Linked DNA regions of Homo sapiens. The protein of the gene in region 1 purifies or fractionates together with the protein of each later gene. This does not show direct contact. Each region holds a gene or a part of one and is shown on either strand. Other genes may lie near its edges.

The links. The genes of interacting proteins can lie anywhere in the genome.
Region 2: the proteins of PRR11 (region 1) and UTP23 purify together in Homo sapiens (affinity purification with mass spectrometry; 3 studies listed by BioGRID and IntAct, with this or other methods). This does not show direct contact.

Annotation. Positions count from the first base shown.
Region 1 is NC_000017.11:59,183,246-59,186,745, reverse strand, and holds part of PRR11 (proline-rich protein 11), read right to left. Parts: intron 1,693-3,500; coding exon 1,542-1,692; intron 1,307-1,541; coding exon 1,184-1,306; intron 1-1,183. UniProt on the Homo sapiens protein: Plays a critical role in cell cycle progression.
Region 2 is NC_000008.11:116,769,524-116,772,353, forward strand, and holds part of UTP23 (rRNA-processing protein UTP23 homolog), read left to right. Parts: intron 1-668; coding exon 669-843; intron 844-1,932; coding exon 1,933-2,319; 3' UTR 2,320-2,830. UniProt on the Homo sapiens protein: Involved in rRNA-processing and ribosome biogenesis.

The sequences.
Region 1 (3,500 bases):
GTGCATAAATTTATTTTTATGTCTGACTTGCTATTTAAAAATGTACAAACAAGCCAGGTGCCATGGCTCACGCCTGCAATCCCAACACTTTGGGAGGCTGAGGTAGGAGGATCACTTGAGGCCAGGAGTTTGAGACTAGCCTGGGCAACAAAGTGAGACCCCCATCCCTATAAAAAACTAAAAAATTTGCCGGGCAGGTGGCACACACCTCTGGTCCCAGCTACAAGGGAGGCTGAGGCAGGAGGATCCCTTGAGCCAGTAGGTCAAGGTTGCAGTGAGCCATGATCATGCCACTGCACTCTAGCCTGTGTAACAGAGTGAGATTCTGTCTAAAAAAAAAAAAAAAAAAAAAAAAAAAAAAAAATTACAAACAGCTGGCAAAATTTTTTTCAGATCTTCTGCTTTAATACTGACAATATTGAACTTCACCTGAGCTCTGTGATTCTGGAAAATAAGGATGGCCAAAAAATCTCCCCATCCTAGGTGGGTGCAATAGTGCAAGCCTGTAGTCCCAGCTACTAAGGGAGGCTGAGGTAGGAGGATCACTTGAGCCCAGGAGTTAGGAGTTGGAGTCTAGGCTGGGCAACATAGTGAGATCCCATCTCTAGAAACAAACAAACAAACAAAAATCTTCCCACAGTTTTATGTCCAGGAAATAATTTTTTATTTTGGAAGTGATGTGGAACCAACTTTTTCCACATCAGTTAGATAAGTTTTATGGATGGCTCCCTCATTTATCTGACAAAGCCAGACACAGACCCTCCAAATTCCCATTCTTTGTCTCATAAGTGATTAGCTGAACTGTTCACTGCCACTGACCAATCTGGACAATATATCTACTAACTTGACCAAACTTTAGTCAGGATTTAGCCCTCCCCATAGGCCCTAGAACCTTGACCTATTCTTGGGCTTAAGCAAGCATTGGTATGCTGAAGAACCTTCAGGAAAAGATGTTCCCTGATCCAATCAGCTATCTGATCAGATTATCCCAGCTCTTCATCTTACTTCCCCATAACCCAGTTTGTTCTACCCTTTGTATTCCTTGCTAACAAAGAAAACTTTTTCGCTTAATGTTTGAGATATAAATCTTATGACTTGAGCATTTTCCCTATTGCAATAGTCTTTTCAAAAAAAGTGTCTCCTTACCTAATTCCAGATTTGCTTTTTATTTGACAATACCAACCTTCAGTGCTTCCTGGAGCTTGCATAATTTACTTTCCAAAATGCAAAACTGTTGTTTTACACTGTAAAGTTCTCGGTGGCAGATACGAGATGGAAAGATGGTGTCTTTCAATACTTCTAAACTCTGAAATTAATAATAAACAATTCTGAGTCCTATGAGTAATATGATAAGGACAAGAAAACAGGAACCAGAAAGTGACTTGATGTATGTTTTTATAGAAGCAAAGGCAGACTTGACTCAATAATTTCATCTTATCTAAGTTTAGCTTGAGGGTTGGACTGACTTGAGCACATATGTATATAAACACCAAGTGTGTAGAAAAACTATAGCACTGAAAACAGGGATGTCACATCCATACCTGGGTTATGCAGTTCTGGCACCAGCTGTATATAGACCATACTCTATTTGTCCAAAGTTTTATTGCATCTCTGATGTTAGGAAAATTGAAGTTCCAGGATGATGTTAGCCAGCTTCTGCTTTGAGATATATCTATTGAAGAAATACCGACTCTGTAGGAAAAACAAAATGAAACAAATAAAAAACCCCTAAGTCAGAATAATAGCCTTGGCCTGGTGTGGTGGCTCATGCCTCTACTGCTAGCACTTTGGGAGGCTGAGGTGAGGAGATTGCTTGAGACCAGGAGTTCAAGACTAGCCTCGGCAACATGGCAAAACCCTGTCCCTGCCAAAAAAAAAAAAAAAAAAAAAAAAAACTTAATCAGGCATGGTGGTGTGCCAGAAGAGAGAAGAATATGCAAACCAGGTTTGAAGATGGGTTAAATCAGAGCTTTTCATTCCACAAAAGAGAACTTTTAATGGGGTCAGAACATTGATCTTCTAATATATGAAAGCCTGTTAACTAGGAGAGAGATAGCAAACTGTTTTGTCAGGACCCACCCAGCTCTGGCGGTTTAAAGCGTCATGAATGGAAATTTGAACTCCAGAAAAGCAGAGCTTCCTACCAATGGGACTTCCATAGCAATGGGATCTGCTTCCTCATTCAGTTTGGGCCTTTCCCATGAGCAAGAGACTCCTAGGAGAGCCACAGCCCATTAGGAAGCCATATGGGAACTCACTCACAGGTTCTTTGTTTATTTTTTTGAGACGGAGTTTTGCTCTTGTTGCCCAGGCTGGAGAGCAATGGTGCGATCTTGGCTCACGGCAACCTCCGCACCCCGAGTTCAAGTGATTCTCCAGTCCCCGCTCCTGAGTAGCTGGGATTACAGGCACCCGCCACCATGCCTGGCTAATTTTTTGTATTTTTAGTAGAGACGGGGTTTCACCATGTTGGCCAGGCTGGTCTCACACTCCTGACCTCAAGTGATCCACTTCCTTTGGCCTCCCAAAGTGCTGGGATTACAGGCGTGAGCCACTGAGCCCGGCCAGGAACTGACAGGTTTTTTGGATGGTCTCTGAATGTCATCCAACTCTTTTATTTTTTATCAAAAAAATTTTTTTTGACACAACGTCTTGCTGTGTTGCCTAGACTGGAGTGCGGTGGCAAGATCATAGCTCACTGCAGCTTCTAAGTCCTGGGCTCAAGCGATCTTCCTGTCGCATGAGTCTCCCAAGTAGTTGGAACAAGGTGCCAGCCACCACACCTGGCTAATTTGGTTTGGTTTTGTTTTTTTAGAGATGGGGTCATGCTATGTTGCCTACACTGGTCTTGAACTGCTGGCCTCAGGCAATCTTCCTCCCTTGGCCACCCAAAGTGCTGGGATTACAAACATGAGCCACTGTGCACAGCTGAGATTTTTCGACTTAGTCTTTTTGTACATGCGATATTTTATTCATAGAATCCATAAATGGTAGGGAAATTTCTGAGTTCAGAGCAATACATATGATACAAAACTTAATATATAGACTAGAGTTTCTTAGCCGAACTGGAGGGGCTGGCCTTAGGTAATCCATGGACTCCCTGAAACTGGGGACACCATTGGAAATATGAGTGAGCTCATGGGCAGTTTCCTATGATTTTCAGGCCTCAAAATGTCTCTTGGACTCAAAGATGCCTTACGGCAGAGGACACGTGTACCCCCAGTATAGAATCTCGGACAGTGAATGTCAGTAAACATTCGGCAGAAAAGCTCTGCCAAATTGAGTGCTCTGATGTGACTTTTTCATCAAGTCAATGTTCCTGGGATCTCTTGTATATGATAATCTCACACTTGTAAGGTTTCATAGTTTCTGCTTACCCTAGTTTTCTTTCCCACCCTCCCTCTCCCACCAGACTGGACTCTGAAATGGGCATGTACAGAGAAGAGGAGACCCCAAAATGCTTCAGGCTTTGAGTGGAGAAGACACAGCCTCTGCTGGGA
Region 2 (2,830 bases), on another chromosome or scaffold:
GATAGCAGGACATCCACAGGCTGGCAGTACTCAAAATAGAGGTCAAGTCTAATGACTAAAGCAAGCAAAATCTTCTTGAAACAGAAAGATGATAAAGGAGATGAAGCAAGAAAGAATCTGGCAAATGCTGGCTAGGGTTGAGGAACTCTTATGACTAAATGTTTTTTTAAAAACAACTTGATGATGTGAGAAGTTTTACTGTTCTGAATTGAAAATGTTTTGAAAGTATACCAATTTGTACTTGAAGCAGAAGCTTATTACGCTATGGTTGGGACAAGGGAGCTGTTGTCAAACTGCAAGTCTCGGTACCACTTGCTAGTTACTTGAACTTTGGCATGTTACTTGAAATCTCAGAATGGGGTGCTCTAAAATAAGGATAATTTCAAGGTAAGCGACCTAACTTCATAGGGTTACTTTGAGATTAATCAAGAATTTATGTAAAGAGCAATTTGCATACTACATGGAACATAATAAGTGCTCAGTTAATTTTAACTGTTGTTCTTCCTACTTGGTAAATGCATTTTTCAAGTGATCTTTTAAAGTAAATGGTTACCAGATGACAAATTTAGATTGTAACAGCATAGTTTTATTTTAAGAAAAAATCGACTATTGTTTTTTACACCTTATGTAAACAAGTGAAATGTATCTGCTATAATTTTTCTTTTCAGATGTGTGTTAAAAGAGCTAGAAACATTGGGAAAGGACTTATATGGGGCAAAACTGATTGCACAAAAATGCCAAGTTCGAAATTGTCCTCATTTCAAGAATGCAGTGAGTGGATCAGAATGTCTGCTTTCCATGGTTGAAGAGGGAAATCCTCATCATTATTTTGTGGCAACACAGGTGATACTACTTTTAAAACCACAGGCAATTTTCACCATTTCTATTTATACTTCATATGGAGCTATTTATAATCAGAAAAAAGTTAGAATGATTAGACTTTTAAAAATACAGGCTTCTAAGTTAATTTGCAGTCAGTAAAAGCAATTGTCATTTGAGAATTTGAGGAAAACTTTAAGCATGTTGATATTCTTTTTAGTAGTGGAAGGTTGGGTTTTGTTTTTTTTAATGATTCCTTTGTTTTGCTTTTTTTGTTTGTTTCTTGAGACTTGAGGGTCTCACTATATTGCCTAGGCTGGTCTCGAACCCCTAGGCTAAAGTGATCCTTCCACCTCAGCTCCTGAGTACCTGGGATTACAGGTGTTTGCCATCATGCTGGACACTGGCAGAAGTTTCTTTTTTTAAAACAAGAAATTGTTGACATGAGATGTGATGATTTGTTGTAGGGTTCTTGAAGGGAAGATAAGTAGAGCAAAGTGCCTGTATTCTGTTAATTTTTTTCATGTTCCTGTATTTCATACTGTTTCTCAAAGTCATGGTTCATACTGCTTAAGACTGTACCAACAGTATGAAATATTTCAGGCTTTTGAAGAAAAATATTCCCATCTTCTTGAAGGCAGGAGAAGAGAGACTTTTGGGGGTGATATTAAGTTCACATACATACAGATTTGATTATCAGAATTATAAAATTACACAGAGGTAGAGCTGAATTTAGAATCTGAGTAGCTAATTACTACCCAGTTTCTTTTCCTTTAACCTCTTTAAGCATTCTTGACCCTTTCCAAAGAATATCTTAGAGTGGAAACAGGAGAAACCCACCTAACACATTTACCTTTGCATTAGTTTGTAATTTGTGGCTCTAGAGTATCGATAAATCCGGTTCACACAGCTGCTACTAACACTGTGCTCAGTTTTTATGTTTTTCTTCCTTTATCATGAAATATACCCCCATTACTCAAATGAATAAGTGAGGCTTACTCATTTGAAAAATAAAATCTGTGATCTCTTTTATTTTTAATACAGTTCTTGAAAACCTATTTAAGGTACCTTAATTGACATTTGAACTAAATAATTCTGTTTTCTTTTAAATAGGATCAGAATTTGTCTGTGAAAGTAAAAAAGAAGCCTGGAGTTCCTCTCATGTTTATTATTCAGAACACTATGGTTTTGGACAAACCTTCTCCCAAAACAATTGCCTTTGTAAAAGCAGTGGAGTCAGGTCAGCTTGTCTCAGTGCATGAGAAAGAAAGTATCAAACATCTCAAAGAGGAACAGGGTTTAGTGAAAAACACTGAACAGAGTAGAAGAAAAAAGCGCAAGAAAATAAGTGGTCCCAATCCTCTTAGTTGTTTGAAGAAAAAGAAAAAGGCACCGGACACACAATCATCTGCTTCTGAAAAGAAAAGAAAAAGAAAAAGAATTCGGAACAGATCTAACCCAAAAGTACTTTCTGAGAAGCAGAATGCAGAAGGAGAATGAATCCTTTGGATACTTTCAAGGACATTCAAATGTGAAAATGAATTTTTTACAACTAGAAGTATTTATAATAAAAGACCAAACTTATTTTTGTAAATGAACCCATATGCTTTAGCTAAAATTAATTATAAAATAAAAACAGTGACCAGTCTAGCCAGCATGGCAAAACCCCATCTCTACTAAAATACAAAAATTAGCTGGGCATGATGGTGCACAGTTGTAATTCCAGCTACTCAGGAGGCTGAGGCATGAGAATCGCTTGAACCTGGGAGGCAGAGATTGCAGTGAGCCCAGTTCGTGTCACTTCACTCCAGCCTGGGCAACAGAGTGAGAACATGTCTCAAAAAAAAAATAAAAACAGTGAATGGGTGTAGGTGTGATGGAATTCACTTTACTTACTAAATGGTTTCGGGAGGTTGTTTCTCCAGGTAAAATTGTCGCCTCTCTGGTCCCATTCCCACCTTCAAACATTATATGCAAACAGTTTTAAAAAATCTTACAGTTCTAAAAGGCT